Linked DNA regions of Homo sapiens. The protein of the gene in region 2 interacts with the protein of the main gene of each other region in a pairwise test. Each region holds a gene or a part of one and is shown on either strand. Other genes may lie near its edges. The genes, in order: SPG21, HSD17B13 and PLIN3.

The links.
Region 1: the proteins of HSD17B13 (region 2) and SPG21 interact in binary tests that used the Homo sapiens proteins (3 or more experiments, as listed by UniProt).
Region 3: the proteins of HSD17B13 (region 2) and PLIN3 interact in binary tests that used the Homo sapiens proteins (3 or more experiments, as listed by UniProt).

Annotation. Positions count from the first base shown.
Region 1 is NC_000015.10:64,976,263-64,979,914, reverse strand, and holds part of SPG21 (maspardin), read left to right. Parts: intron 1-3,359; coding exon 3,360-3,440; intron 3,441-3,652. UniProt on the Homo sapiens protein: May play a role as a negative regulatory factor in CD4-dependent T-cell activation.
Region 2 is NC_000004.12:87,309,261-87,312,912, reverse strand, and holds part of HSD17B13 (17-beta-hydroxysteroid dehydrogenase 13 isoform A precursor), read left to right. Parts: intron 1-2,553; coding exon 2,554-2,670; intron 2,671-3,652. UniProt on the Homo sapiens protein: Plays a pivotal role in hepatic lipid metabolism. In vitro, it catalyzes the oxidation of a variety of lipid substrates, including 17beta-estradiol, retinol, retinal, and leukotriene B4.
Region 3 is NC_000019.10:4,861,135-4,864,786, reverse strand, and holds part of PLIN3 (perilipin-3), read left to right. Parts: intron 1-3,375; 5' UTR 3,376-3,392; coding exon 3,393-3,458; intron 3,459-3,652. UniProt on the Homo sapiens protein: Structural component of lipid droplets, which is required for the formation and maintenance of lipid storage droplets. Required for the transport of mannose 6-phosphate receptors (MPR) from endosomes to the trans-Golgi network.

The DNA.
Region 1 (3,652 bases), on a different chromosome or scaffold from region 2:
CTCTGGGAGAAAGGTGTGTGGGAAAGGCACTCTTCCTGGTGACTGATTTTTTTTTTTTTTTTTTTTTTTGCATGCTTCCACATTGGTCAGGACATTGGTCTCCTAATTTTCCAGGAAGGAGAGAGTCTCTTTAGCTGGCAGTCGCCTGCAGTATTCACTTGTAAGTGGTACTCCCAGTGGGAGTACTGCTGTTAGTGTACGTTTTATTTACTGTTTAAAGGGATGAAAAGGCAGGTCACGTCTCTCCTTTTGGAAGGTAACTGAAAATTCTACTGAGGTTACCACCAACTGAGGCCACACAAAGGAAATCAGTTCCTCTTCCTCCTGAGAGCCCGTCTCTTACTTGAGAAAACAGTTATCATCACTACCTGCTGCTTTTCTCCTGGGTCTTTTCTTCTCTGGCTTAATTTCTCCAGCTTCTTTAACCATTCCTCACGTGACATGTTTGAGCCTCTGCAACATAATCCTCCTTTGTTCAGATTTTCAGTCATTCCTCTTCACAAACAGCATTCTAGAACAGGGTGGGAACTGCCCTCATCCCAGCCCTCTGCAGCCTGAGACATGACACTACCATTTTTGGTGGCCCCTGTTGATCAGCCAGGGAGGGGGAAACCGAGCAACCCATAGGCGCCCGTCCCACTCGGGAGTGCTGTCCAGCAGTGTGTTTCTCGCTCCACAGTGGCAGGTCATGAGAGCCTTGGCTTCTGGCTGGATGTTTCTTCTTCACTCTCAAGGTTCTTGTTGTGCGCTTTCCCTGTTTCATTAGGAGGAGAGTTAATCAAGAAAAGGTCAACAGTGTCTTCAAAATTATTTTGTCATCAAGATGTGATCAGAATGTTCAGCTCCATGAGGTTTTGGAACTTATTTAATATTTGTTAGTATCTAGCAGTTAAAATGCACAGATCTTTTTAATTTAAATTTTTTTGTTGTTGTAATTGTAGATTCACATGCAGTGTAAAAAATAGTAAAGAGAAATATACCTTTTACACATTTCCCCAGTTTCTGCCGAACCTTTGCAAAACTGTAGTACAAAATCACAACCAGGATATTGATATTACTACAATCTACCAATCTCATTCAGGCTTCCCCAGTTCTGCTTGAACTCATTTGTTTGTATGTATTAAGTTGCATATAATTTTGTCACCTGTGTGGGCATGGATATTTATAAATTAAAGACTCCATGAAAGTATCATCCCCTTTCTTTTAGGCTATCATCTGACTCAAATTCTCAAACTTTCTGCTAGGTAGAATCAGTTCCCCATTCTTTCTTGGAATGGTGGAAGTCTTATCCACAAATAGAATTTTAATAATGAAAGTCATACATCAAATCTAAAATGATTCCATAATTCATATGGCAGTATCCATTCCAGTGATTCATCAATAACAAAATGAACCTAAGTGCTTAAACAGTAAGCCTGTTAGACGAGGTTTTTGGGGGAGTTTTTTTGTTTTTGTTTTTGTTTTTTGGAGATGGAGTCTCACTCTGTCACTCAGGCTAGAGTGCAGTAGTATGATCTCGGCTCATGCAACCTCCACCTCTCAGGCTCAAGCAATTCTCATGCCTCAGCTTCCCCAGTAGCTGGGATTACAGGTGCCTGTCACCATGCCTGGCTAATTTTTGTATTTTTTAGTAGAGATGGGGTTTCACCATGTTGTCCAGGCTGGTCTCGAACTCCTGACCTCAAGTGATTCACCCGCCTCGGCCTCCCAAAGCGCTGGGATTGCAAGCGTGAGCCACCACGCCCAGCCAGTTGGTTTTATATGTATATAAAAAAGGAATTCTTGGCCAGGCGCGGTGGCTCACGCCTGTAATCCCAGCACTTTGGGAGGCCGAGGCAGGCGGATCACAAGATCAGGAGATCGAGACCATCCTGGCTAACATGGTGAAACCCCGTCTCTACTAAAAATACAACAACAACAAAAAATTAGTCGGGTGTGGTGGCACATGCCTGTAGTCCCAGCTACTCAGGAGACTGAGGCAGGAGAATCGCTTGAACCTGGGAGGTGGAGGTTGCAGTGAGCCGAGATCGCGCCACTGCACTCCAGCCTGGGCGACAGAGCGAGACCCCAGTTCAAACAAACAAAAAAAAGGAATTCTTAGGGGACAAACCTGAGTCCCTTAGAAATGAGTTTGTGACTTGTACTTCTTTTTCCTCATCATTGCCAGCATTAATAGATAGGCTACGTATAGTCAAGTACCATACTTCTTTTGTCACAAACAGAAGTACAGTAGCCTGGCATGGTGGCTCACACCCGTAATCCCAGCACTTTGGGAAGTTAAGGCAGTTATATTGCTTGAGGCAGGCAAATCGCTTGAGCCCAGGAGTTCAAGACCAGCCTGGGCAACGTGGCAAAACCCCATTTCTACAAAAAAGTATACATATAAAAATTAGCCAGGCATGGTGGTGCATGCCTGTGATTCCAGCTACCGGGGGGCTGAGGTGGGAGAATCGCTTGCACCCAAGAGGTTGTGGCTGCAGTGAGCTACAATCGTGCCAATGCACTCCAGCCTGGGTGAGAGAGAGTGAGACCCTATCACAAAAACAAACAAGCTGGGTGGAGTGACTCACGCCTAAAATTCCAACACTTTGGGAGGCCAAGGCAGTTAGATCACTTGAGGTCAGGAGTTCGAGACTAGCCTGGCCAACATGGCAAAACTGTGTCTGTACTAAAAATACAAAAATCAGCTGGGTGTGGTGGTGGACATCTGTAATCTCAGCTACTCAGGAGGCTGAGGTAGGAGAATCGTTCAAACCCGGGAGGCGGAGGTGGCATGAGTCGAGATCGCGCCGCTGCACTCCAGCCTGGGCAACAGAGGAGACTCTGTCTCAAGAAACAAACAGACACCCCAAAGTACAATAAATGAAATAGAGTAACTAAGTCATTTAAAAGAAGAGGAACAATTTTACTGAATACCCTCTTAAAGAAATGCTACCAAAAAGAGAGGAAGCTCTCCTTAGAACAAATTTTGTTTCCATCTCTCCTGAGCCATAATTCTGAATGAAATTAGATTTAAGAGAAAACGGTATTTCTTTACTGGAATGGGTTCTGCTGTATTCATCCTTGAACCCCAGACTTTTTCAGCTATTTAGAAAGGAAATTGATGGGAATTGAAATTGTTACTCACGTAATATCATTAGAGTGTGCTTACTTTTTATACTCTTTTAATTTGGTCTGTTAGAAAAATGTGAAATATGAAGTTTAGTAAAAAGTGAGAGCTTATTTTTACATATTTTGAATAAGGAGCAGCGCTTGAGCAAACGAGAAATGTCAGTGTTTGAGTCCTAAGTTTTTCAAATACGTGAGTTGCATTTTTACTTTTATGATTTTTAAAAATAAAATTATCGTTATTATTTCAGTTGCAGTATCCAGTTTATTGGGACCATCTCGAGTTCTGTGATGGATTCAGAAAACTTTTAGACCATTTACAATTGGATAAAGTGAGTACCCTGAAACTAATTACATACATACAATTTTTTTTTTATTTTTTGAGATGAAGTCTCACTCTGTCACCCAGGCTGGAGTGCAGTGGCGCGATCTCGGCTCACCGCAACCTCCACCTCCCGGATTCAAGTGATTCTCCTGCCTCAGTCTCCAAAATAGCTGGGATTACAGGCGTGTGCCACCATGCCCGGCTAGTTTTTGTATTTTT
Region 2 (3,652 bases):
AATTTTTGTATTTTTAGTAGAGACGGGGTTTCACCATGTTGGCCAGGCTGGTCTCAAACTCCTGACCTCAGGTGTCCTACCTGCCTTGGCCTCCTAAAATGCTGGGATTACAGGAGTGAGCCACCATGCCCGGCCAAAAAAATAAGTTTTTAAAGAATTAAAGGTCATCCTGGCTAACACAGTGAAACCCCGTCTCTACTAAAAAACACAAAAAAATTAGCCGGGCGTGGTGGCGGGCGCCTGTAGTCCCAGCTGCGCGGGAGGCTGAGGCAGGAGAATGGCGTGAACCCGGGAGGCGGAGCTTGCAGTGAGCCGAGATCGCGCCACTGCACTCCAGCCTGGGCGACAGAGCGAGACTCCGTCTCAAAAAAAAAAAAAAAAAAAAAAAAAAAAAGAATTAAAGGTGTTAATTTTATTTAGAAGCCTTACTGAAGACTACAGTCGGAGGCCTATAGCCTGAGAGCAGCCCTTTAGAGAGGTTCAGTTGAACTGTTCTGATAGTGGGGGCCATGTGCTCTATCCTGTATTGTCTTCAAAGCATCTTTCCAGAGAGCTGCACATTGTCACAGAGTCAGGGACTTTGTGAAATTATGCTGACAACCAGAAGTGAGTAAACGTGGCTTCTTACATTTGCTACGTTGTCTCACAGTACTTAATAAGTATGCAATATGTAAGTAAATACTATAGTACTATTGCAACTCCTGATTGTTTTCTTAGACAAGGAATTGGGCCCAATAAAAACCCTCTTGGTAGGCATTCAGGCTTCGTGTACCATGAGCTTTCCTAAGGGTATCCTGCCACTCTTGGGGAAGGCATGATAGATGAGGGGAGTAAGGATAATGGAACTCTGGGTACAGGGTTCCTGGGGGCTAACTTAGAGGTAGACACAGGCAATGCTAAATATTTGGGATTGATTTTATAGAGGTTGCTAGATTGTGAATTTCCTTAGTAAGGGCTAAGGCATTGATATGTAATGTCACACTTGGCTCCGAGGCTGGGTTGTTGGATCCATGTAGATGAAATCAGGGAGAGAAAGGGCAGAACGGAGTAATTTAGAAATGTATTGATTTGTATTACTCTCTGTTGGCTTGCTATTCAAGGCAGTGGAGAACTCAATCACATAATAATCTGCAGCAAACCACAGATCATCCCAGGGAATGAAGTTTTAACATTCGCTGGCTCCCTAACTCCTCACCCAGCCTTTACATTCACTGGCTGTTCAGTCCATGCCTGGACATCTTAATTTGAATACAACATTTTAAATCCATTTTTCTGTCATCATCTTGCACTAACAGACAATTCTACACTAAGCCTATGTTTATGAATATTTCTCAAGAGTACATGTACACAGCCTTCAGTATAAGGAAAACTGGAAGTATGACATACCTCCAGTTGTCATACTCCTTGGGCCCCTCTTAAATTCTCATTAAACTGCAGGATAGGCAAGTCAGAGGTGAATCTCAAATACGAAATTCTTACCGGAAAGGGGTTCCAATCCAGACCCCAAGAGAGGGTTCTTAGATTTCTCGCAAGAAATAATTCGGGGCAAGGCCACAGTGCAAAGCAAAAGCAAGTTTATTAGGAAAGTAAAGGAGTAGAGAACAGCTACTCCATGGAGAAGAATGGCTTGAGCTGCTCCACCAAGGGTATTTAGAGTTACTTCTTGATTATATGCTAAACAAGGGGTGGATTATTCATGAGTTTTCCGGGAAAAGGGTGAGCAATTCCCAGAACTGAGATTTCCTCCCCTTTTTAGGCCATATAGGGTAACTTCCTGCCATTGCCATGGTATTTGTAAACTGTCATAGTGCTGGTGGAAGTGTCTCTTAGCTTGCTAATGTATTATAGTTAGCTTATAATGAGCAGTGAGGACAACCAGAGGTCACTTTCATCACCATCTTGGTTTTGGTGGGTTTTGGCCGGCTTCTTTACTGCACCCTATTTTATCAACAAGGTCTTTATGACCTGAATCTTGTGCCAACCTCCTATCTCATCCTGTGACAAAGAATGCCTTAACTTCCTGGGAATGCAGCCCAGTAGGTGTCAGCCTTATTTTACCCAGACCCTATTCAAGATGGAGTTGCTCTGATTTAAACGCCTCTGACAAAATGACGACCTCAAAACAATCCAGCTTTATGGAATACCTCCACAAGAAAGAAAGTATACTTAGCTATAGAATTTTCTCCTTGCATCCAACAGGCTTTGAGATGTCAGATGTTTCCTTCCTGTCCCATGATTAATCCTAGCCATTCCTCTTTCTTGTCTGGCTCCACTACTCCTTACCATCTAATGCCTCGCCACCATTTTGATATTTTGACTAAGTGAGCTATGAAACACACCTACTGGATATGAAAGTATAAGTTTCTGATAACAAAACATCAACATGGGATGTGGAGGAAGTGGGTAGGGTGGCATTAATGCAGCAAATCCTGGAATATTTTAAATCTTCATTCTAAATTTAGTAAAAATATAGGATAATTTTCCTGCCATCATTTACTTATAAAATTAAAATTTTAGAAAATAAAAATAATATTTTCCTCTTTTTAATCACAGATTATGGCCTGTATTGGAGACAGATGAAGTCGTAAGAAGTCTGATAGATGGAATACTTACCAATAAGAAAATGATTTTTGTTCCATCGTATATCAATATCTTTCTGAGACTACAGAAGTAAGTACAGCACAGAACACCCAAATACTAAAACACCAATAGAGCTTTTTTTTTTGCTTTTTTTTTTTTTAGACAGAGTCTCACTCTGTCACCCTGGCTGGATTGCGGTGGTTGCAGTGGCATGATCTTGGCTCACTGCAACCTCCGCCTCCTGGGTTCAAGCAATTCTCATGCCTCAGACCCCCAAGTAACTGGGATTATAGGTGTGTGCTGCCACACTACACCCAGCTAATTTTTGTATTTTTTGATAGAGACAGGTTTCCCCATGTTGGCCAGGCTGGACTCGAACTCCTGACCTCAAGTTATCCTCCTGTCTCGGCCTCCCAAAGTGCTGGGATTACAGTCATGAGCCACCATGCCTGGCCCAATAGAGCTATTATTATGGAGCATCTTTCAGTTGTGAAAATTGGCATGGAAACTCTCCATCCCTGGGGAGAACAGTTATTTCCTCTGTTATTTTCCTACCCAGTCTATAAAAAGAGAGTGATTCATTTTCTCTACCAAATCTACTGTCTCTGCCCAAACTTTGCTGAAGACTATTCTAACTAAAGGAAACACAGTTTAAAAAGAATGCAATATAGTGAAGTAGTTAATAATAAAGACTCCATTTTTAAAAGTCTGCTGGAAGTTTGGTTGGGATTGCACTGAATCTATAGAGCAATTGGGGAGTATTGACATATCAACAATATTGAGTTTTCTAATCCAAGAACATAATATCTATTTTTAAAATCTTCTTCAAAATCTTTAAATCTTTAAATTGTATTTTGTAGTTTTTGGTGTTTAAGTCTTGCACATATTTTGTCAGATTTATTCCAAAGTATTTCACGGGTTCTTTTTTTTTTTTTTTTTTTTTTTTTTGAGACAGAGTTTCACCCTTGTTGCCCAGGCTGGAGTGCAGTGGCGTGATCTTGGCTCACTGCAGCTTCTGCCTCCTGGCTTCAAGTGATTCTCCTGCCTCAGCCTCCCAAGTAGCTGGGATTAC
Region 3 (3,652 bases), on a different chromosome or scaffold from region 2:
TGGTGTCCCAGCTTCATTTCACTAGTCCAGGAAAAGGGAGTTGTGGCTTCATCCCGCTTACATAGACTCACCTGGGGAACCCCGTCCTCCCCACACCCCTGACCTGGACTTCATAGCTCTGCGGTGCAGGCAGGCATGTTATCTCACTTTTTAAAAAAAGCCTAAATTTTGGCTGGGTGCGGTGGCTCACAGCTGTAATCCTAGCAGTTTGGGAGGCCAAGGTGGGCAGATCCCTTGAGCTCAGGAGTTCAAGACCAACCTGGGCAACATGGCAAAACCCCATCTACTAAAAAACAAACAAACAAAACAACAACAACAACAAAAAAAAAAACAAACCACGGCTGAGTGCAGTGACTCATCCTGTAATCCCAGCACTTTGGGAGGCTGAGGCGGGTGGATCACGAGGTCAGGTGTTCAAGACCAGCCTGACCAACATAGTGAAACCCCATCTCTACTAAAAATACAAAAAATTAGCCAGACGTGGTGCACACCTGTAATCCCAGCTACTCAGGAGGCTGAGGCAGGAGAATCGCTTGAACCCAGAAGGCGGAGGTTACAGTGAGCCGAAATCACGCCACTGCACCCCAGCCTGGATGACAGAGCAAGACTCCCTGTCCAAAAAAAAAAAACAAAACCACACACACACACACACACACACACACACACACACACACACACACACACACACTAGCCAGGTGTGGTGGTGCGTGCCTGTAGTCCCAGCTACTTGCAGGGTCAAGGTGGGAGAATTGCTTGAGCGTAGGAGACAGAGGTTGCAGTGAGCCAAGATCGCACCACTACACTGCAGCCTGGGCGACAGAGCGGAAATCCGTCTCAAGAAAGAGAAGAAAGTTTGCCCTATTTAACACATTTTATCCCTTGACTAGATCTTTGTTCATGTCATGTCAGTTACATTTAGTCTTTTGTTTGTTTTGTTTTGTTTTCTTTTTTTTTTTTTTGAGATGGAGTCTCGCTCTGTCACCCAGGCTGGAGTGCAGTGGTGCAATACCAGGTCACTGCAACCTCCACCTCCTGGGTTCAAGCGATTCTCCTGCCTCAGCCTCCTGAGTAGCTGGGATAACTAAACATGGAGGCGTGCACCACCACGCCTGGCTAATTTTTGTATTTTTAGTAGAGACGGGGTTTTGCCATGTTGGCCAGGCTGGTCTCCACCTCCTGACCTCAGGTGATCCTCCTGCCTCGGCCTCCCAAAGTGCTGGGATTAGAGGTGTGACCCACCACATCTGGCCCATGTGAGTTACATTTAAATCTCTTTTTTTTTTTTTTTTGAGACAGAGTTTCGCTCCTGTTGCCCAGGCTGGAGTGCAGCGGCGCGATCTCGGCTCACTGCAACTTCCGCTTCCCGGGTTCAAGTAACTCTCCTGCCTCAGCCTCCTGAATAGCTGGGATTACAGGCATTCGCCACCATGCCTGGCTAATTTTATATTTTTAGTAGAGATGGGGTTTCTCCATGTTGGTCAGGCTGGTCTCGAACTCCTGACCTCAGGTGATCCACCCGCCTTGGCCTCCCAAAGTGCTGGGATTACAGGCGTGAGCCACCGCACCCGGCCTTTAAATCTCATTCTTTAGCCACTGCATTGGGATACACTTATTTTTGTTTTTGTGTTTTGAGACGGAGTCTCACTCTGTTGCCCAGGCTGGAGTGCAGTGGCGCGATCTCACCTCACTGCAACCTCCGCCTCCTGGGTTCAAGCGATTCTCCTGCCTCAGCCTCCTGAGTAGCTGGGATTACAGGCGCCCACCATCATGCCTGGCTAATGTTTGTATTTTTAGTAGAGACGGGGTTTCACTATGTTGGCCAGGCTGGACTCGAACTCCTGACCTCGTGTTCCACCCACCTCGGCCTCCCAAAGTGCTGGGATTACAGGCGTGAGCCACTGTGTCTGGCCACACTTGTTGTTTTCTTATTCCCCTTTTGCTGGGCATCCAGGTTGTTTCCAGTGTCATGTTGTGGCCAGTAAGTCCACACAGCTCTGCTCATGTGGAAACACAGGTGTGGGTTCTTCCCCGAAGTGAGGTTTCTGGGTCAAGGGGAAGATGGCTCTTGGAACTTGACAGCTATTGGCAAATTGTCCTCTACAGAGGTTTTAGGTCATACCTGGCTTGCTGGAGTACAGGTGAGCCCTGAAGGGACTGTTCCCAAGCCTTGCTTCCTGACGTGTGTCCCAGGGACCAGCTGCATCAACACTGCCTGGGAGCCTTTTAGAAATGCAGGGTCAGGGCCGGGCATGGTGGCTCACTCCTGTAATCCCAGAACTTTGGGAGTCCAAGGCAAGAGGATTGTTTGAGACCAGGAATTCGAGACCAGCCTGGGCAACATAGCAAGATACCATTGGCCAGGCACAATGGCTCACACCTATAATCCCAGCACTTTGGGAGGCCGAGGCGGGCGGATCACGAGGTCAGGAGATCAAGACCATCCTGGCCAACATGGTGAAAACCCGTTTCTACTAAAAAAATACAAAAAATTGGCCAGGTGTAGTGGCACACGCCTGTAGTCCCAGCTACTGGGAAGGCTGAGGCAGGGGAATTGCTTGAACGTGGGAGGTGGAGGTTACAGTGAGCCGAGATCGTGCCACTGCACTCCAGCCTGGCGACAGAGCAAGACTCTGTCTCAAAAAAAAAAAAAAAAGATAACATCTCTACCCAAAAAGAAAAAATTAAGTAGGCGTGGTGGTGTGTGCCTATAGTCCTAGTTACTTGGGAAGCTGAGGCAGGAGGATCCCTTAAGCCCAGGAGTTAGAGGCTGCAGTGAGCTGTGATTGTACCACTGTACTCCAGCCTGGGTGACAGAGCAAGACCCTGTCTTTAATGAGAAAAAAAAAAAAGAAAGGATCAGGTGTGGTGGCTCACACCTGTAATCCCAGCACTTTGGGAGGCCAAGGTGGGTGGAACACAAGGTCAGGAGTTCAAGACTAGCCAGGCCAATATGGTGAAACCCCGTCTCTACTAAAAATACAAAAATTAGCTGGGCGTGGTGGTGGGTGCCTGTAATCCAGCTACTCGGGAGGCTAAGGCAGGAGAATTGCTTGAAACCAGGAGGCGGAGGTTGCAGTGAGCCCAGGTTGCCCCACTGCACTCCATCCTGGGCGACAGAGTGAGACTGTCTCCAAAGAAAATAAAGAAAAAAAAAAAGAAATAGGGGGCCAGGTGAGCCCCATCCCGAAGCTTTAGAATCAGCACTTGCTATTGAACAAAGTCCAGAGGTCACTCTTGTGCCTGCTAAGGACTGAAAGACACAGCTGTAAGTCATGGGCAGGTGTGAACCCTGTCTTCCAGCTGCAGCGTGGGCCTGGACTTTCTCCTGGAAGGTGGGGCCAGGCAGGCTGTACCTGACTGTTCCTCTCTCCTCAGCGTCTGCTGCAGAGACCATGTCTGCCGACGGGGCAGAGGCTGATGGCAGCACCCAGGTGACAGTGGAAGAACCGGTACAGCAGGTGAGGAAGGGCCGGGACCAGGGACTGCCCCGACCCTGTGATTCCCGTGCAAGGAGGCTTCCCACCCCAGGGTGCCCTGGCAGGGAGCCAGGGATCTGCCGGCAGCTCACGGAGCCAGAGGGATTTATTCCTCAGTGGGGTATGGACCACTCACTGGTGTCCCCAGTTGGGAGGGGGGAATCTCAAAGGCCCTT